Linked DNA regions of Homo sapiens: all the other regions are linked to region 3. Evidence: fine-mapped expression QTL. A gene starts in region 3. Each other region holds a variant in brackets. All regions are shown on one strand. Distances are from middle to middle.

What was found.
Region 1: its variant is fine-mapped to the expression of KIF25 in lung (GTEx, PIP above 0.99).
Region 2: its variant is fine-mapped to the expression of KIF25 in cerebellar hemisphere (GTEx, PIP 0.95).
Region 4: its variant is fine-mapped to the expression of KIF25 in lung (TOPMed, PIP above 0.99).

Annotation. Positions count from the first base shown.
Region 1 is chr6:168,023,364-168,028,560 of GRCh38, reverse strand. The region is part of intron 5 of KIF25 (kinesin family member 25); the gene reads right to left. Among named protein-coding and RNA genes, the nearest start is that of KIF25, 28 kb to the right of the region's middle. RefSeq lists a silencer at 3,024-3,202. The variant G/A (reference allele first, on the strand shown) is at 2,095.
Region 2 is chr6:167,953,990-167,958,989 of GRCh38, reverse strand. The region is part of intron 30 of AFDN (afadin, adherens junction formation factor); the gene reads right to left. Among named protein-coding and RNA genes, the nearest start is that of HGC6.3, 23 kb to the left of the region's middle. The variant T/C (reference allele first, on the strand shown) is at 3,031.
Region 3 is chr6:167,994,864-168,000,060 of GRCh38, reverse strand. It overlaps KIF25 (kinesin family member 25), which reads right to left and starts at 2,390. Exons shown (of 13, transcript NM_030615.4): 1 at 1,191-2,390; 2 at 741-969. It overlaps KIF25-AS1 (KIF25 antisense RNA 1), which reads left to right and starts at 2,984. Exons shown (of 4, transcript NR_103750.1): 1 at 2,984-3,155; 2 at 3,460-3,823; 3 at 3,958-4,548.
Region 4 is chr6:168,047,969-168,053,165 of GRCh38, reverse strand. It overlaps FRMD1 (FERM domain containing 1), which reads left to right. Exons shown (of 11, transcript NM_024919.6): 11 at 1-71. Among named protein-coding and RNA genes, the nearest start is that of FRMD1, 29 kb to the left of the region's middle. RefSeq lists an enhancer at 4,250-4,749. The variant T/C (reference allele first, on the strand shown) is at 2,345.

The sequences.
Region 1 (5,197 bases), 28 kb before region 3:
AAGAAGCCCTGGAAAATAGAGGAACTGGGATGGGACGGGCTCAGACACTGGAACCTTCTCTGAGACTCTATCTATGACAGCTTGGTCTTGCTGCGTGAATTAGTAAGTAGGCCGAAGGAAGACAGATACAACTCCATGTGGCAACGGGCTGTCAGATAAAGGGGCATCTCAGGTCAGTGGGGAGAGAGGTGTTTTAATAAGTGGTGTTACAGGCCGGGCACGATGGCTCACGCCTGTAATCCTAGCACTTTGGGAGGCCAAGGTGGACAGATCATTTGAGCCCAAGAGTTTGAGACCAGCCTGGGCAACGGGCAAAACTCCATCTCTATATCCTTTTTTTAAATAAATAAATTTTAAAATATTATTTTTAATTAATATTTTAAAAAATAAGTGGCGTTGCAGTAAATGAATAGATATAAAAAGATAAAATGGGGTCAATTCTTTATAAAATGGACTAGGACACATTCCCAACAGACCACGAGTTTAATGAAAACCACCCGGCCATGCGTGTCCCAGCAGAGTCCACAGGGGGGTTCTTCTGGAACCTGGCAGCCTTTTTACCTACGATCATGTAAACATGTTCGTGTGGCTCAAAGACACCAGAAGCAAACGACAGACTGAGAAAGTAGCGGCGGCTTAAATATTTCTGTTCTATCAAGTGCTCCTAGAGATAGAGAAGGGAAAGGTCAGTCCTTGTAGAGAAGTGAAGAATGCACAGAAAAAAAGATGCGAATGTCAGAAGCACACGAAAAGACTCAACTTCGCTCTGAAGAGACGCGACACAGAGAACCCGTTTCTCACCCACGGACCGGAACAACCCATGCATCTGACCTCGTGCTCCGTGGGGATGTGGAGGGAAGCCGGCCTTGCCCACGCGGCTGTCCGGGGAGGAGGGGCGGTCCCGGTGCCAGTGGGAAGCTGGCCCTGGGACCTGGCACCCCCAGCACCCACCTCCCACAGTCATGTCCAGCCACACCCAAGGCTCCTGTGCTTGGACCCTGTCATTCTCATTCTTTTTCTTCATAACTTTGACCATTTTCCCCCCAACCTGGAATCTCCTTTCCCTTTTTCTTTCTCTCTCTCTCTTTTTTTTTTTTTTTTTTTTTGGAGACAGAGTCTTGCTCTGTCGCCCAGGCTGGAGTGCAATGGCCCAATCTCAGCTCACTGCAACCTCTGTCTCCTTGGTTCAATCGATTCTCCCTGCCTCAGCCTCTCAAGTAGCTGGGACTACAGGTGTGTGCCACCACGTCCAGCTAATTTTTTGTATTTTAGTGGAGACGGGATTTCACCATGTTGCCCAGGGTGGTCTCGAACTCCTGAGTTCAGGCAATCTGCCCGCCTCTGCCTCCCAAAGTGCTAGGATTACAGGCGTGAGCCACCACCCCCGGCCACCTTTCCCTTTTTCTATGCCTGGTTAACTCCTGGTTAGCTGAGCTGTCAAGCCCCAGGTCGAGGGCCTCCCCCATCTCTGCCTCCTGCCCCACTGCTGTGTTGGTGGCTTCTGAGCTCAGCGCAGCCTCCTGGGAACGGTCCCTACAGCTCTAGGTCTTGGTGGCAAAAATGCTGCCTTCCTCTCACCTACATCCCTTGTGTCTAACAGGGTGCCTGGCACATAATAGGTGCTCAGAAAAATGCTTGAACTTGAACGACTATAGAAATTTCACACAAATGTGTCAGTTAGGAATATCACATTGTAAATTCCTGTTCTACAAGAATACAGCCAGCAGTCCTTCAGCTTCCTGATAAATGAATTCTTCTCAAAACAATGAACATGACTTATTCTTTTTCTCCTTGCATTTTGGATCAGTGGCATTACTTTTGGTTTGCCTTTTTTAAATAATATTTTTATTTCACTTAGAAAATAACCTTCTTCTTACCCTGGACCTATTAATATTTTTTCTGAATAGTAAAATTGAACTTTCCCCCTCATACAAATTTATTTTTAAAATAAGTTAAGGGCTGAAAGTGTTGGAATTTTTTTTAGAATGGAAATAAAATATTTTGACATTCGTTAGTTCCATAAAAAGCTGTTATAAAAACCAACAATGTTCTGATTTCATAAGAACCATATGCTCCACTGTTTATAAAAACACG[G/A]TGATCCTGAATGCTAAACAATATTACCCCAGAATGAATTCTTGCAGAGATTTATATTTAAAGTCTCCCCTAACTCTATAGATAGACAGCAAGTTGCACAAATTCTTCCATTTTTCTGTTCACTTCTAACAGCACAATTTTGATGTTTCCCTTCGACCCTCAGCGTATTCATATTGAGACAGGGCCCTCTGAGAAGACACGTGTCGGCATGAACTGTGCTGCTCCACTTCCTTCTTCCCCAAAACAAGGTCACACGATCCCCGAGGGTGGTTTCCCCACCACAGTGCCCTTGCCTGTGCTTCTCCACTGACCTGAGCAGCAGCCTGGTGTAACCCAAAGACTGAGACCTTCTGCCCAAATCCAACGCTTACTAAAAGCCATCGTTTAACTAGACTGGGCGGTGGTGCCCCCCGCAGCTTCCTCTTCAGGTCCTCCTGGGACGACCAACGGCCTGAAAGTACTTGGAGACTGCCAAGGGCTACGTGTAGGTGACGTATGTAACTAAACTCCACCCAGCTCAAGCTCTAGCCACTCTGTGACTCTCTTGCCCACAGGAATTTCTCTGTCACTCAGTACTCGGCCGCACACTCTGTGGGACTCTGGCTGCTTTGCGGTGATGACCGATACCCACAGCCTGTGTGTAAGCCGCGTGGGGAAAGGATCATACTTTAAACTTTTTATTCCTAATCCGACCCTACTTTATTCCTTCTCAGCAGCTCTGTGCTAAGCACCCGAAGGTGCGCATTGAATCCTTCAGCACTTTAACCGAAGGGTGCATTTGGCTCTAAACATTCAGCCCAATCCTTTATCAATAGGCCACGTGCTTCCTTAAGCTGGCGCTGTTTACTTCCCAAGTCAAGTCTAGGGTGTGTAACAGTAAACTGCAAGGATTGGAGGTGGGGTCGGGAGGAAGGAAAAAGCTTTTACCACAATGTATCTACCACCGACACCAGCTGACACGGTTCAGCCATCATCCAGCAAGCCACGATTTTAAACACAATTTAAATGAAATGCTCATTTATTGGGATGCAAGGTAAGACCTTGTCCCCAGCCCCGCGGGGCTCGTGTTCCAGTTGGGAAGACGATAGTAGAAGCAGATACTATAATGTGCCAAACACTATTCCAAGAGATGAAGCAGGAGCGGGAAATGAGAAGTTGGAGCAGCGGCCTCCAACCGAGGGACACAGGGAAACTGAGAAGAATTCATCACGAAGGAGACATTCCCCAGCCACACCCCCAGGTCCTTCATCAGTGAGCGTCCCCGCGTCTCTGATGAGTCTCTGTCCTTTGTTGGGATGCCTGTCCCACCTAAACCTCCAGAGCTGAGTCCAGGCTCAAGGCCTCTTCCCCAGAGGTGCTTCCCTCATTAACCCTGTTCCATTCCAAACATTCCTTTCTTTCTTTTTCGTTTTTTTGAAGACAGAATCTCACTCTGTCGTCCAGACTGGAGTGCAGTGGCACATTCTCGGCTCACTGCAACCTCTGCCTCCCGGGTTCATGCGATTCTCCTGCCTCAGCCTCCCGAGTAGCTGGGACTATAGGCGTGTGCCACCACGCCCAGCTAATTTTTGTATTTTTAGTAGAGATGAGGTTTCACCATGTTGACCAGGCTGGTCTCGAACTCCTGACCTCAGGTGATCCACCCACCTAGACCTCCCAAAGTGCTGGGATTACAGGCGTGAGCCACCGTGCCCAGCCAGCCAGGCTGGTCTTGAACTCCTGACCTCAGATGATCCACCCGCCTTGGCCTCCCAAGGTGCTGAGATTACAGGTGTGAGCCACCGTGCCCGGCCCCGAACATTCCTTTCTTCTCCATCCTTGGCCAATTATGTCACCTATTTTGATTGCTTCACCTTATTCTGCCAACGTTGATATTACTTATCATTGTAAAGATCTCCCAAGCCTCCCATCCCAAGCCTAGTTCTCAACTAGGGTATAAACTCCTGGAAGGAGTCAGGCCAACCCCATTTCCCTCCTTACCTAGCCCAACACCAGATTACTCTGAAGCACAGTAAAAAAAAAAAAAAAAAAAAAAAAAAAAAAGAGAGAGGTTTTTACTAAGATTATTCCCCTGCATAATTGAGTCATCAAAAGAGGACAAAATCAATAGTGGAAGAAAGGTCAGCCCAGTGAAGGATTGTAAAAAAAACTGTGTGTCACGAGGAAGCAAAGTTCCACAAGTGTTTGCATAAACAAACATGATGAAGCTAAGCCATGGGGCTATTACTCCAAAGTGCTCATAAATTTGCTTCTTTTCTACACTGATAAAAAGTATCATTTTTCTCTATACTGTTTTTAGTGCACAGACATGAGAAAAAGCTTTTGCACGTGAAGACTGGCTTTGCTCTTACAAATTAAATCCATTGAACCACCAGCACCGTGTATGGAAGTTTCTTCAGGAAGCTACTTTATTACATGTGAAACTGATGAAAATTTTCTTGAGTATTCATAGTGAGATTTTTAAATATGATTATTTTAGGGGAAAAAAATCAAGTTATTTGGTTTTAGATATACAAATAAAATGTTTTTCAGTAAATAATAAAAATGCATGAGACTATACAGATTCTAATATTATTGCAATCCTTGAGTAGTAAAACACATTCTGCAAAGTGCACTGTCTCTGAAGCACCAGATCGCGACACATGGTGGCTAAGATACAACTCCCTTTCTCTCCCCTAACCAACATGTAAGTAATGCAGATAAAATAGAAACAAAATATGTTTTAAAATATGCTGCTGACGTTGAAGGGAAGAAAGAAAGGAAACTGGCTGGGCACGGTGGCTCACGCCTTTAATCCTAGCCCTTGGGAGGCTGAGGCGGATGGATTACTTGAGTTCAGGAGTTCAAGACCAGCCTGGCCAACATGGTGAAACCCGGTCTCTATTAGAAATACAAATATTAGCCAGCATGGTGGCTCACGCCTGTAATCTCAGCACTTTGGGAGACCAAGGTGGGCCGATCACTTGAGGTCAGGAGTTCAAGACCTGCTGGGCCAACATGGTGAAACCCTGTCTCTACTAAAAATACAAAAATTAGCCGGATGTGATGGTGCATGCCTGAAGTCTCAGCTACTTGGGAGGCTGAGGCAGGAGAATCGCTCGAA
Region 2 (5,000 bases), 41 kb after region 3:
CCTTGAGTAAAACTGAGACTTCCTGAAGATGCACTGTGACTACACTGTGGCTCTGATATTCTGGGCAGGGCCCATTTTCATTCTAGAGGCACTCCAATTTGAATAGACAAAATACAGTCTGACTTCCCCCAGATAGATTTCTCTGAAGAAACAATTCTGAAATTAGGCTTCCTACTAATTCCTGCTTGAAATTTTTATAAGGCTTTTAATTCAACCCCTTCTATACCTGGGATGCTCAAGAGGGGCATGTCCAATTTCTACAGTTCCACGCAAAAACAAGCAAACAAAAACAAGAAAGCGGAAGAGGAGGGAAGACCTAGCTTGGGCTTTCATGTAAGGAAAGCAGCAGAACCACGGAACTCTTTGAAAACATCTTTTCACTGGTATTATTACCCCAAGGGGGAGGAATTTCTCCTGTGAGTTCTCATGTTTTCTGAGTCAGCAGATGATCCATTAAAACGTGTTAACAAGACAAACCTGAGCTTAGCCACTGAGAGATTTGTCAAACCAAGTAAATTTCGAGAAAATGGTTCCTGCCACTACAGTGTTACAAAAAGAGGCATTTTTGTGTCCTAGAAAGGGCACGTAATATGAATTCAGAAAACTCTCGTTAAAACCTTCACTCTCACCTGATCCATGTGATACAAAGCAGAGTATCCCTTATCCAAAATGCTTGGAACCAGAAGTGTTTCAAATTTTGGATTTTTTATTTTTGGACTATTTGCATATATGTAATGAGATTTCCTGGAAACAGGACCCAAGTCTAAATATGAATTGATTTCTGTTTCATATACACTATATATATAGCCTAAAGGTAATTTTATAACATATTTGAAATAATTTTGGACATAAAACGAAGCTTTGACTACAACCTCTCACTGAGGTCAGGTGTGGAATTTTCTACTTGTGGCATAATGTCGGTGCTCAAAGAGTTTTGGATTTTGGATTCTGAATTTTCAGATTAGGAATGTTCAACATGTACTGGCAAAGTCTCTCCCATGGTGGGTTTGGGGACCCTGGCTCTCACGTGCTCTGTGTGATACTGGGTCAATCTCTTCCATGCTGGCTTAGGCCCTTGTGCTCTGCCATAGAATAGCTTTGTCATGAGGAAATGAGAGGAATATATGCAGTTATGTGGCAACCTGGAGCAATGAAGGCACGAATCACACACCTTGTCATCAGGTGGAAGGACTAGCTACTTCTCGAGGCTGCAGCCAGGCAAAGCTGCAGCCACAGTCACGGCCACCTCCATGGTCCTAACTAACCGGCTACTCAAGTTAGAGACAGGTTCCAAGGCTAGGACAGAGTACTCTGCCAGGAGAAAGCAGACATCCTGACGAATTCCAGGTGTCCTGGATTTGCCCATGCGATATAAAGGAAAAGCCCTAACGACACAATGGGCTTCATCATAATCTAGTGCTGAAGGAGATCCCTCCAGCAAGTCAGACTTTGGTTTGAACATGACTTACACACCATCTCAGTCATTAAAATAGGAAACAACCTAGTAACAGCTTTACTCTTGAGATGCTAACAGTCAGGAAGGTCACACACCTTCGAGAGCTTGGGACCTTGGCCTGGAATCCGATCCCACTCACTCGACTGCCTACCACACTCCAGAACTCTTCTAGAAACTTGGACAAAGGTCACTGTTCCCATGGAGGTGGCGCTACCCAGAAGAGACAAACATGCCTAATGATGAGTAATGTGTATAGCATGTCCACAGAAAAACACACAGGACACAGTGAGGCCAGTGGGCCCCTGATACAAAGCAGCATGGGCAGGTGGGCCCCCCCCATATGAAGCAGTGGGGGCAGGTGGGCCCCCCCAGAAAGGTGGCATCTGAGAGACACCTGCATGTGCCAAGAGGGTCAGCCATGGAGACAGGCAGGGACCCTCCCGACGGCCCAACATGTGGAGGGTCACTAGAAGGCAGGCAGGCAGGCTGGAGGGCCAGTGGGCAAGGGTGTGAAGAGGAGATGAGACCCGAGCAAACTTAGACCGCCTGTCTAAGTGAAAGGAGAGACTTAGGAGGGCTGTGAGGACATTCTCGTGAGACTGCTGTATGCTATGTCAAGGCTGTCCTGTGAAGGGACTGGGGGACAGTACCGAGGGATCCTGCCAGTCTCTCGCAGTGACCCCGGCAGGAAAAGGAGAGAGGCTCTGGTCACGGGGGCACAGAGATTGGTCAGGTTGTGAGGAGGTCAAGCCAGTAGAGTTTCTGAACAGAGAAAAAAGGGGGTCATGCATGACTGTGAGGTTTCTTGCCTGAGCAACTCGAAGCATCAGCTGAAATGGGGAAGGCTGAAGGCAGAATGATGAGCAGTGCAAGGTGAGTGAAGCAGACAAAGATTTCACTTTGAGCATGCTGCATTCCAAAAGTCTTACTTGACTCCATGTGGAGATGTTACATGGGCAGGTGGATATCTGAGTCTTTAGTATGTGAGAAGTTTGGACTAGAAATCAAATGAGGATATTGCTGGCATCAAAGTGGTGCTACCGTCTCAGGTCGGAAGTGAGCACAGAGGATGGAGAAGGTAGGCCCTGGACTGACAGGGGTGATGGGTCACAAAGAGACCAGAGGGAAGAGCAGAAACGAGTGCAGGCAGCCTCCCAACTTTATGAAACTCAGCTGCTTCCAAACAGGAAAAGACCTGCCTCATTTCTCTAATTACCTACCTGAAAATCCTGTGATGTGTCTAAGAAAATATCTTAAGAACCATACTGGGTAGTGTCACTCCCTATATAGTCACATATTTGCCCTTATCCTTATTAAGGAGAGGGCTAATATCTTCACAGATGAGGGTCTCCTAGGGTAACCTGCCAATTCTTACATAAAAAGAATTCTATAGTTTTTTTTTTTTTTTTTTTTTTTTTTGAGCCAAAGTCTCGCTCTGTTCCCCAGGCTGGAGTGCAGTGGTGCAATCTCTGGTCACTGCAACCTCCACCTCCTGGGTTCGAGCAAGTGTCATGCCTCAGCCTCCTGAGTAGCTGGCATTACAGGTGCCCGCCACTGTGCCCAGCTAATTTTTG[T/C]ATTTTTAGTAGAGACGAGGTTTCACCATGTTGGTCAGGCTGGTCTTGAACTCCTGGCCTCAGGTGATTCACCTGCTCGGCCTCCCAAAGTGCTGGGATTACAGGCATGAACCACTGTGCCCACCCAAGAATTTTATAAATAATGAGGTGCTGTTAATAATATGTACTGGGGAACTGGGCTAAGAAATGCTCAGAAACATGTGGTTAAGATCAATATTAATACTCAAAATAATTATCTTCTAAAGAAAGAAACTCTCTGAATTATTTCTATGGAACAAAAACCTTATTGCAAGCATTATTTTACTGTTCATGTGTCACAGAATTCTTCATAGTATAAGAAACTCTCTTTGGGCCTGAGAGCTGGCTGGTATCTTCAATGCCTCAGGTCAGTGCCCACCGTGTCATGGATGCTGAGCAAGTATTTGCTGAATGAATATCTCACACTAAGGTGACTCTGATCAATATCTTCCAGCTACACTTATGTACATCAAAACACACAAAGAAGTAGGGAGAAAAATGTATAACTTTTAAATCTTTGTTTCATGTAAAAAAAAAAATGCAAAGCTCAGAAAATATGCCTTCCAATCACCAAGGAGGGAAGGTGTTTGTAAGAAAGGTTCCTCTCTAAGGTGTTATTACCGCTGTGCTAAACTGAGGGGGGAAGGAAAAGGGGACTATTATTTGGTGAAAAGGCCACTAAAGTCAAACCTTGATTCACAGGTTTTAAATGTACCGTCTGATATTGGCTTTTGTCTTTATAAGTTGACTAGAATTTGTCTTCAAGTTTATATAAATATATCAGAGTATAATTGTCTAGCAGGTGATAAAGATACCATACGCAAGCATAATGGGCCCTAAACGATGAGCCAAACTTCCCCAATATGACAATGAACACTTTGAATTTACAACAGACCATGAACCTCAAGTATTTTTCAGCAGACTGATAAATTGGCATGGCTGATAAACTGAATTAAAATCCATGTTATATTATTAAAGAAAACATAGAATACATGTTCACTGGAAATCTCTTACTCTACCAACAGACAGTTATATCTTAACTGGCAAATAATGTCAATACCCTTTCAGCTGAGTTTATAACAACTGAATATTTAAAATCTATGTCTAATGTGAAAAAAATGAAATAGATTACTCATTACAAAATTTATTTCATTTGCTCATGTATTTATGACTACGTAAGAATACACGGAATCAATTTATGACTGAAACCGAGAAAAGGTCAAAACCATAAACAAACAGTAACACTTAAAATTAACGGAGAAAAGCAAAGAGTAACTAAATCTAGGAACATTCAAAGGCATGCTTCTAAAGTGTCAGGGACTCCATCTCCTGATGGAGGACACCCCTAAGGAGAACTGGATCTACTGAAAACATCAAACAGCCACCACTGAAAGAAAAGAAAATCAAGACAGGAAAAAAGTACCAAAGGGAAAGAAACAAGAACATACCAAATCTAGAACAGAGATTGCTGGCATAGCAGTCTGCTGCAGGTAACAGAGAAAGAAAAAAAAAAAGAAAGATGAAGTGTGGAAAAAAAAGTTAGGTTTAGACCTGTAATCTGCCATCGGCATATTTTCTCACTATCATGCGTCATCTGTGTTTCGACAACTTGATGAGAAAGGTAAAGAACTACAGACTAACTTCTAGTATTCAGAAACAGAAAAATGCCCACATGGTATTAAATGAGTTTCATCATTAGGATACATAGAAAATAAAAAACAGCAAAATTTCCCTTAGCTTTCTTATTTGGAGACTAAGATACTAATTGTAACAGAACTACTAAGCAAAAAGCAAATATTTTTTACTAAATTTTCATAAGAAACTTTCCAAATATCGCAATTCATACTAAAAGGCTTTGAAATATTCAGTGTTTTAACCCATTTGGAAAAACTCTGAGAGACCTTTAAATAAAAGTTTAGTCCTCACAGAAAAAGATACTTACAGAAATACTA
Region 3 (5,197 bases):
AGGATGGGAGTGGGGAGGGTCAGGTGTAGACAGGATGGAAGTGGGGAGGGTCAGGTGTGGTCAGGATGGGAGTGGGGAGGGTCAGGTGTGGTCAGGATGGGAGTGGGGAGGGTCAGGTGTGGTCAGGATGGGAGTGGGGAGGGTCAGGTGTGGTCAGGATGGGAGTGGGGATTTCCAGGGGGTTTGTTTCATGGGGAAGGAAGTAAGTCATATTGAGTATGGTTTTCAAGTAAGCATTTGAGTAAATGAACTTCAGATAATTTTGCTGTATCCATGAATACCATCAAAACTTTCTCTAAGTCAAAAGTATCAGTTGAGTCAATACTCACTGACTGCCTGCATGGCGGAGTGGGTGGTCTTTGGGGTTCATAAAGGCAGGGTGCTCCCTTTTTGATATAGTGACATAAAGGGAAAAGTCCATTCAAAGCCTGTCCCTGTTCGGTCGGACCCCGCAGAGGCAAACCACGAAAAGACGGACGCCCTCTCAGGTGCAGAACCACTACCACGCACGAGAGGCCTGCTCAGGCAGTTTGGCCTTTTGCAGGCCGTATTACAGAGGGCTGCAGAGTGTCCACTGTCAGCAAGACAGCGCCATCCTTAAACAGAGCCCCCACCCACAACTCGAGAATGTCCTGCTTTGGGACCGGGGACAGGACAGTAGACGGCATTTAAAATTGTGCCACTCCTCTGTCTTTTCCCTGAGCACACAGACATACACACACCGTGCAAACACAGGTTACCTGCTCTGCAAAACTGGATCGTCGGATTCACTATCAAAAGGCAACAAAGGACGAATCCGACAGTGAACTCTGATATTTCGTTTCAGCTCCTGCAATGATCAAGAGGTCTGCGTGTCAACCCGGGCGCGAGCCTGCACTGCGGAGCATCCCCCACTGAACGTGCACCGGGCACCAGCTCCTGAGACGCGGCCGTGAGATCTGCAGCACCTGTCTCCACTTCGAAAGACCCCTGCAGGGTAGTGAACAGTTATTTTATTTATTTATTTTTTGAGCCAGAGTCTTGCTCTGTCGCCCAGGCTGGAGTGCAGTGATGCAATCTCAGCTCACTGCGACCTCCGCCTCCCAGGTTCAAGTGATTCTCCTGCCTCAGCCCCCAGAGTAGCTGGGATGACAGGTGCCCACCACCACGCCCAGCTAATTTTTGTATTTTTAGTACAGAAGGGTTTTTACCATGTTGGCCAAGCTGGTCTCGAACTCCTGACCTCAGGTAATGCGCCCGCCTCGGCCTCCCAAAGTTCTGGGATTATAGGCATGAGCCACCGTGCCCGGCCATGAACAGTTATTTTAAACTTCTGGATTCATACTTCACAAATGTGTTCACTTGGCAAAGGGGTATCCCTTGGTAATAAGTACCAAGGAAAATCCCTTTGAATGGCATCCTGGGCTCGACATTTTAGGCATTTTAGAGGGGATTTTGGAAATTCAGTATCTGTCATATTTCCTTGATTTAATGACTGGAAGGAAATTAGAAGCTTTTTATTCTCATAAACTCCACTGGTTTCCAGTGAGCAACACATCTTCTCCGTATGTGCTCAGAACTTGCCAAATCCATTCTGAAATCTTGTCTTGGATCCACAGCAAGTTTATCCACCCTGTCATGCTGAGCAGCTCCTTCTACATTTTGAAAACCAAGTGGGTGTCATAGGCCAATGATTTACAGCCTCCGTCTGGTCTCTATGAACCCACAGAAGCTGGGATCAGCCTCTGCCTGCATATTCTCCATGGGCCGCGCACTGCACGCTCCTCAGCTAGACCAGGAGACCAGGCTTGAGGTGGAACACTCAGAAACTTCCACAACCAATTCTTCCTTGTGGGACTTGACTCCATCTTAGGAAGGTTCATATTATCTTTTTCATGCTCCAGATTAAAAAAAAAAAAAGCTGCAGCGTAGTGAGACTTTCTGAAGTGCCAGGTGCTTCACTGATATCTCCCTTTGTCTTTATAGCAACCCAGAGAGGTGGTGCTATTGTGAAGATTAAATAAGAAAATACACCAAATGGTTTCAAAAGTACTTGGTACACAGGAAGCACTCAATAAATGTTCTCTTATATCAATGTTTGGAGCACTGAACTACATAAGTAGATGCTTAAAATGAGAATTATTCTTTGACACATCTAACAGCTGGAGAACCTCTCGGCATGGCCAGGGAAGAGAAGCTTCGCAGGAACACTGGCTTCGTGGGCCTCGGGCAGGTGGAATTCGGAGAAACTGGCCAAAGTGCAACCATCAAAATCAAACCTCACAGAAGCGAGGGTCACCCACTCAATCATCCACCTTGGCATCCTCGTGTTGCAAAATCAAACCCTGAGACTTTACATTAAATTTCATGGGATCTCAGGTCTCATACCTTCGACCAAGAAAGCACGAGAGCCTCTGGGTCTTGTTAATGGGCAGTGAGAGACGTGGGTGGAAGGTGCTGGTGAGGAAGGGGCAGGGGCAGGGGCAGGGGCAGTCTCCACCGGCATCTCCAGTTACAGCAAAATCCTTGCTTTTCCCGCGCAAGTCCCCATCTCTGCAGATTCCCCCGCCCCCCATCTCTGCAGATTCCCCCGCCCCCCATCTCTGCAGATTCCCCCGACCCCCCATCTCTGCAGATTCCCCCGCCCCCCATCTCTGCAGATTCCCCCGCCCCCCATCTCTGCAGATTCCCCCGCCCCCCATCTCTGCAGATTCCCCCGCCCCCATCTCTGCAGATTCCCCCGCCCCCATCTCTGCAGATTCCCCCGCCCCCACCTCTGCAGATTCCCCCGACCCCCCATCTCTGCAGATTCCCCCGCCCCCCATCTCTGCAGATTCCCCCGACCCCCCATCTCTGCAGATTCCCCCGCCCCCCATCTCTGCAGATTCCCCCGCCCCCATCTCTGCAGATTCCCCCGCCCCCATCTCTGCAGATTCCCCCGCCCCCAACTGCCCGCTACAGCTCTTTCCTTGTGCCTCACAGCAGCCGGTCCCACTTCCTGCATCGCCACCAATGTGGCCCAGGCCACCAGCCCCCGTGACACTGCAGCCATCCCCTTTGCTCCCCGTCGTGGCCTCCCGACCGAGCAGCCAGAGTGACCCCGAAAGCCTAAATCAGCCTGCGGCGCCCTCACCCGTCCTCCAGCTGCCATCGCCTCCTGGGTGAAGAGGACGCAGGTCGCAGCCCCCGCAGCTCTGCCCCTCTGCCCTCCGGCCAGGCCGCCCCGCTGTCCCCCTTGCTGTCCACCTCTCTGTCCACCCCTGCTGTCCCCCCCCGCTGTCCCCCCCGCTGTCACACCCCCGCTGTCCCCCCCCCGCTGTCCCCCCTGTTGTCCCCCCGCTGTCCCTCCCGCTGTCCCTCCGGCGAGGAGGCTTCTGCACGTTCTGCGTGGGCCTCTCCCCGGGGCCGCCCCAGGTCTCCCCTGACGCCCACACCCACCACCAGGCTGTTGTGCGGGACCTTCCTTCTCTGCCTCTCCAGCTGGTGACGCGCACTGACGTCCTGCAAGGCCCGCTCCAGGTGCGCCACCTTTGACTGGCATGCTGAAAGGACAAAGGGACGGAGGCATTTTACCGGAGAGGACATCCATGGGGCCCAGCAGGTCAAATTCCTTTCTCTAAGTATGGGAGACATTTTTAAAAATAATGGAGTCCTCCAGGGCCGGCTGCGTGCTGTGGCCTGTGCTCCTCACTGCTTTGGACCCAGGCTGCGCTGTCTCCACCACGACCAAGGACTCACAGAGCTCGCCTGGGGGACCTGGCCCCACAGTCACCCCGTCCGTCATCAGCCTCAAATGCCATCAGCCCGTGAATGCTGCTCCATCGTCTGCATGGCAGCCAAGGAGGTCTCTGCTCCTAAAGCACCTGGGAGCCCTTGGTGAGGGGGGAGTGGGGCAGGGAAGGAGATGCTGGGGCCCAGCTCTGCTGCTGTGGATTGTTACAGTGGCCTGGGCCTCTACTCCCGCCTCTGTCCTACCAGGATGGTGCCAGGTGATGTGGCGATGAGTGGGCATCGCGTGGGGGCCTTGGACGAGCGTGGACACCCCAATCCCCAGACTGGCCATTGCCGTGGAGGCAGCGTGAGTGTGACATGGAGCTCGGTGTCGTGCTGCAGAGGACGCCTCGCGGCTGTACGCGTCATGATAGCCAGGGACCCCTCCACATGTCACTTAGCCAAAGGATGCAGCCCAGCCTGGGGCTTTCTACCCCAGGCCCGAGGACCTGCAGGGACAAGGACCCCTCAGCGCAGATGCAGCTCTCATGAGGCCTGAAACCAAGCTGGACTTGCAGAACTGCGCACGCTCCCTTTCTGAAAGAAACACCCGTTACCGGGTCCAGACTGAATGTGGGCGTAAGAAAGCGGGAAGGGTCCCCCACAGCAAGAGAGAGACCCTCCCAGTCACTTGGTCATCTGAGCCTTGAGTGTGTCCGGCCCCAGCCACCAGCCTGTCCCCACTATCCCTCTTGTCAGCACGGCTGAAAGGAGCTGCCTGGGCACCTGAGGTGGCTGAGGCTCATCTTTGAGGAGCATGGAACTCGAGGGGAGAAGTCGCGCCCCCAGGGAAGCCAGGTAAGGAGGCCCCGAGCCCCTGAGCCTAACGCCTGGGCACAAATAAGCCGCCTGGGGACCCCTCTGTGTGGCAGGACTGCACCGTGGCTCCCACAGGCAGGGCCTCAGCAGGCCCTGCCTCCTCACACGTCAGCATTCCCTCTGCGGGAGAGCCTTGGCGGCTCCCTGCTTCTCCCTTTGAGTTTCACCTTTTCAAAGCTTAAGTACACTGCTTTTCACAAAATAACATGATTGTCCCTTTCCCTGGAGCACATGGCTTATAAGAACACAGGCGTTGCCGGCTGTGGTGGCTCGTGCCTGTAATCCCAGCACTTTGGGAGGCTGAGGCGGGCAGATCACCCGAGGTCAGGAGTTCGAGACCAGCCTGGCCAACATGGTAAAACCCCATCTCTACTAAAAATACAAAATTAGCCAGGCGTGGTGGCAGGCGCCTATAATCCCAGCTACTCGGGAGGCTGAGGTGGGAGAATAGCTTGAATCCAGGAGGCAGATGTTGCAGTGAGCTGAGATGGCGCCACTGCACTCCAGCCTGGGCGACAGAGTGAGATTCTGTCCCCCGCCGCCCCCCGCCCCCCAAAAAAAGAACACAGGCATGCACACGTCACTCCTACAAACACGGCCTTAGGGGAGTTACTGAGCAGAGTGCACT
Region 4 (5,197 bases), 53 kb before region 3:
GCAGTGGGGAAAATGGCGCGGGTTAATTGTTTATTAATCACAGGCAGCTCACCAATAAAACCGTCACCAAATATTGTGTTACTGTGTTTTTCAGCTTTTTAAACTTTGTGATGTGGTGGTTTTTTAATGTTTCTGTATTTAGATTTATTTTCATACTTTAGAATTTGTAATCTTATCTTTTGCCCTGAAGGAGGGCTCCCCATCACCATCTAACCATGGAAGTTTCAGGCCTCAAAACGGGGCCCAGGGTGAGGACTCCTCTGATCTCAGAACCTTGGGTCACACAGCGGCTGCCATTCCCTGCTCACATCCCCTGGCTACGGATGAGGCCCCCGGGCCACTGGGCACAGGCTGGGGCTCCCTCCCGGCTCGCCGCCGGCCCATGCCTGGTTCTCCAGCCGCCCCAGGGTGGCAGTGTTCATCCTGAGTCCCCTCCTGGCTCTGCCCTGGCATCTGTGCTCAGGTGACCAGCCAGGCCTCCCGCTGGCAGGGGTGTGGTTCTCTCCATTCAGCCACTGCTGCTGTCACAAACCAGTGCACGCAGCAGGAACTGGACGTCACCGTCACCAAGTGGGGACCTGTTCGCCGCACCCTCTGTTGTCTGTCCTTGGACATCAGGGCCATTGTCCGCCCACAGCCCTGGACATCCACGCTGTTGGGGCGGCGGCAGGGCCTGGCGCAGTGGGAGAAGAGGAAGAAGCATGTCCTCAGAGCCAGATGCAGGAGTGTGCCCTGTGGGGTGCGGGCCAGGCTCCCTCCTGAGCGGACATGGGAACACGTAACAGTGGGAACAGGCCGGCCTCCAATGGGGGCCTCTGCAGGAGGTGGGCTGGGAGGAGGACGCGCCTCAGGAGCCTCCGGGATGCTCTTTATGGCCAGGCACGGTGCTTCACACCTGTAATCTCAACACTTTGGGAGGCCAAGGTGAGCGGATCACTTGAGACCAGGAGTTTGAGACCAGCCTGGGCAACCTGGCAAAACCCCATCTCTACAAAAAATATAGAAATAAAATTAGCCGGGCATGGTGGCGCCTGTGGTCCCAGCTACTCGGGAGGCTGAGGTGGGAGAATCACTTGAGCCCAGGAGGTCAAGGCTGCAGTGAGCTGAGATCATGCCACTGCACTGCAGCCTGGGCGATGCAGCAAGACCCTGTCTCAAAAAAAAAACCAAAATGCTCTTTGTTCTCTGAGGAAGGGGCTGCCCAGCAGAAGGTGGTGGGAGGGCATGAGGCTTTGGCAGCCCTGACAGTGCATGGGTGGAGTGCCCACCTGTGGGCTGGGGTGCAGGTCTGGGAGGCCGGCACTGTCCCCCTCGGTGGCAGGTGTGTGAAGTGAGGCATCCAGTGGGGGTCCGGGGCCGCCTCCCCGCAGCCTGTCCTTGTGTTTTGCTTCTCACATGTGATTCCTGGGAGCAGGTGCCCTGGGCTCCCAGAGAGGCTGCAGGACACACACCAGCCCCGGCGTGTCCACTGCACTGTGTCTTCCCTCTGGTCACTACAACAGATCTTCATAGGCCGTGTGGCCTCACTCTGCCCACTCCTCATGATTCTGGAGGCTGGAAGTCCAGGATCGAGGTGCCGGCCAGTTCCATTCCTGGTCCAGGCCCCCTCCCTGGCCGCTACGTCTTCTCAGGGCGGAAGGGGCTTGCGAGCTCCCAGGGCCCCCCTTACAAAGGCACTAATCCCACCCGTGAGCCTCCATCCTCACAACCTCACCGGCTCCCACAGGCACCCCCTCCTAACACCATGGCCTTGCTGGTGAGGATTCCCACACAGACGTCGGGGGGCGCACTCAGCCCACCCTGCATTACACGCTGGGACACATCCGGCTCATCAGTCTCCATCCCGGTCTTGGGATCTTCAAGGCAGGAGCCTCCGGCCTTGACTGCAGTTTCCTCGGTGCCAAAGCAAGACCCCGGTACAGGAGGCAGCCAATAAATGGGCACAGAACAGGTGAAAGAGGGAGGGAGGGCCAGCGGATTGGTGCTCTGTGCACCTCAGTGGGCAGGGCTGGCTTGCTCTGGCTGTGCTAACTGTATACACCTCCTTGTCCACCCAGGCTGAGCCACAGTCCACATGGCTGTGATGGAGCTGAAGCCCCTGCTGAGGGGCAGCTGGCGTCCGGCCACGCCCACCCCACATTGTTCTGGCCCCCCCCACCCCATCCCGGGGCTTGCCCGAGGAGCATGGCTGAAACTACAGAACGTCCCTAGCACTTCAGGGAAACAGATGTAAAATATCCGTGGGTTTTGGCCAAGCTCCACCAAGAAAGGAGAAGGTCCAGGGAGTTATGAGACCCCCAGGGCGTCGGTCACCCAGGTCCTGCCCACTGGGCTAACAGCTCAC[T/C]GGCCTCCCACAGCAACACCCCCAGGGTCAACATTCCACCACCTCGGTCTCCACAAATGAGGTGTCTTCCATTTCTGCTAACTAAGCAAAGTCAGCGACTGGATTACAAGTTCCCAGGCCCAGGGCCTTGGCCACGGCAAGGCTGCTGGGCTCACACTGTGCTGAGGAGGCCACGGCTGCCCCAGCCACACATGGGCCCCCGGCTTGCCCTCCGTGCGCTCCTCCTGCCTCCTCCGACCGCTGCTCTTTCCCCGAGTATCAGGGCTGGGCCAGGCTGTTCTCGAAGTGAGGTCTGCAGTTAATTCGGATTGTGAGACGAGCCTGGTCCCAGACAGTCCTGAGGGAGCATCCAGGGCCGCAAGCCTCACTGCACGGCCTCCCACCACTCCCCAGGGCCTGTTCCTGGCTACGGGGGAGGGGCACAGGCAGCCTGCGGAGGAAAGAGCAGGCAAGAGAGATCTGGGGGAGCCAGGCGTCCCCCCCATATCTGGCCCCCTCCTGCCTCACACTAAACGATGGCCAGGGCGGGACTCTGGGCACGCAGGGACCTCCGGCGAGTACCAACAGGCCCGGGGGCTGGTGTCTGTGACGCTCTAGGACGGCAGCGTGCGCCCCTCACAGGGTAATTATAGTACAGATCACTCGGTCCGGCACAGGCAGACACTTTGTCATTCCCCCTTTGCCACTGTGGACCCTTCAGGCCTCTGCACAGAGGCCGCCCCCGCAGGGAAGCCACCCCGGACCCCGAGATGGGGCCGGGCCCCTGTGGTTCCGCTCTAACAGGCGCCTGTCGCAGCTCTCACACCCTGGGTGGCTGTGGTGTCTTCTGTCCTCCCCATTTGGGCTGTATTCCCCGCACAGTCTCCACGTGCCACCTAAACCTCTGCTGAGTGTTTCCTCCCACAGATCACTGGCAAATCTCTTCAAAACCAGCGGCCTCTGACCCGCTACAAGCTGAAGAGGACAGGGTGTTTCATTCCAGCCTTGCAGTGTCCTCTGGACGAAACCGCATTTGGCACCCAGAGCTGCCCCAGCCCTGGGCCCTGGGCCCCCACCCCACCCCACCCCCACCCTGGCCCCCGGCAATCTTCCCTCCTCGGGGCCTGGGCTCCTTCCCTTCCTCCTCTCCTCTCCTGAGCCTGCCCATGTCACAGGTTCTGTGGCCAAACGGCCTGAGGGAGGCAAGGAGGGGGTGCTGTCCAGGTTCAAGGCGCCCCTCCAAATATGCCTCGTCCAGCTGTGAAGCTCCCAGACATGTCAGCCCTGGGAACATAAACCTCGCACCAGAGTCACGCACTCACCCCATAAGGCGGCTCTCGTGCATGAACAATTGTGCCGTAGGTCAGCGCTGGGGAGGTCTGGTTGTGCTCAGTTTGAGGAAGCCACGAGTGTTTCTGGAGATGCATTTCTCCGTGGCGCTGGGACTGCCCTCCAAAGGTCCACGTCTGTGAGAGAAGGAGCCGGACCACGACTGAGGGGCAGACGCTCCTTCCCGCCCACTCACAGGCGCTGCGAGTCAGTAAGTACGTGGACTTCCACAGCCTCAGCGTCCTTGCTTTTCAAATGGGTTGATCCTAAACACCTTCAGAGGCCCTGAGCCAAGAGGAAGAAGCTAATGAACATGAAGATAGTAACCCCAGAGCAGAGCTGTTAATTGATGGGACGTCTTTGAGTTTTAGTCACTGACTAGTTTTGGGTTTTTTTTCTGTATGTTTCCTGGGTCCGTCCCTCCCTCTCCCTTCTTAGGGGCAGCGTGTCAGCACCACGGTGATGGGCCACTGAAATCACTGGTGGTGGCCAGCGGTGGGGTGAGTGCCTGCAGCCCCACACCCTGGAGACTGGGCTGGTTTGCTCTGAAACCCTGGCACTCTGGGTGTGGCCAAGTGGACCAGGGTGAAGACTGGGCCCAGGCTTCCTTCTAGGAAATGAGGAGTTGGGAGTGAGAGGCAGACGAAAACCTGGGAAGCGAGGACTCAGCTGCACGCCCTGTGATGGGGCAGAGGGTTCCAGTCTGCAGCGTGGGGGCGTCGAGGGTGGCAGGCAGTGGGGTCCGGTGCCTGGGGCCCAAGCGCCCCCCACGCCCACTGCCCCAACTCCCAGTCTCTGTAGACGCCCTTGCTCTAGGCTGTGACTGGCAGGTTCCTGAGTCACTCGCGCCTCTGCCATCCCGCGTAGAGGCTGGCCAGAGCCGGTCCAACACTTCCCCAGAGGGAAGCTCTGCCATTTTCACACGGTGCCCGTCTCGGGGCACCACTGTGGGCCCCACGCAGCTGTGGGGCGAGGCGTCCACGCATCCTCTACAAAGGCAGCTTGGTTATCACAACGCCGGCCTTGCTCAGAGAGGAACTTCATCAAACACACAAAGAAGGCTTGTCGAGTGTCACGCGGCTCAGCCAGGCTGTCCCTTCGGTCACGCTATGGCAGCAGCTCGGGCCCTTCAAGGTCAGAAGGAGGACGGCAGGGCCTGGCGGCAGTTGTTGCTTGGCACTGCTGTTCAGTGCGGGCTCCACAGAGAAGCTTCCATCTCACCAGAGCTGCCACCTCCTGAGTCCATCATTTGTGCGTTGGTGTCTCTGTCCTACTAAAGGAACTTCGCACCTCAGCAAGCCGGTGAGGGGCTTCCTGAGCCAGGGGCATCTGCCTGCCTAAGGGCCAACCCTAAAGAGAAGTTTGATTTTATTTTGGGCACTGAGGGAGCATCTCAGAACCTGTGGGGTCATTCAAGTCATCACAATGATGAGGGGACACAAGTGACATTGAGCAGACAGGCACCAAGGACGCCAGGTCCCCATAAGGCACAGGACACTCCCACCCAGCAAATACTGTCCCGGGGGCCACGTGGCTTTAGCCCCC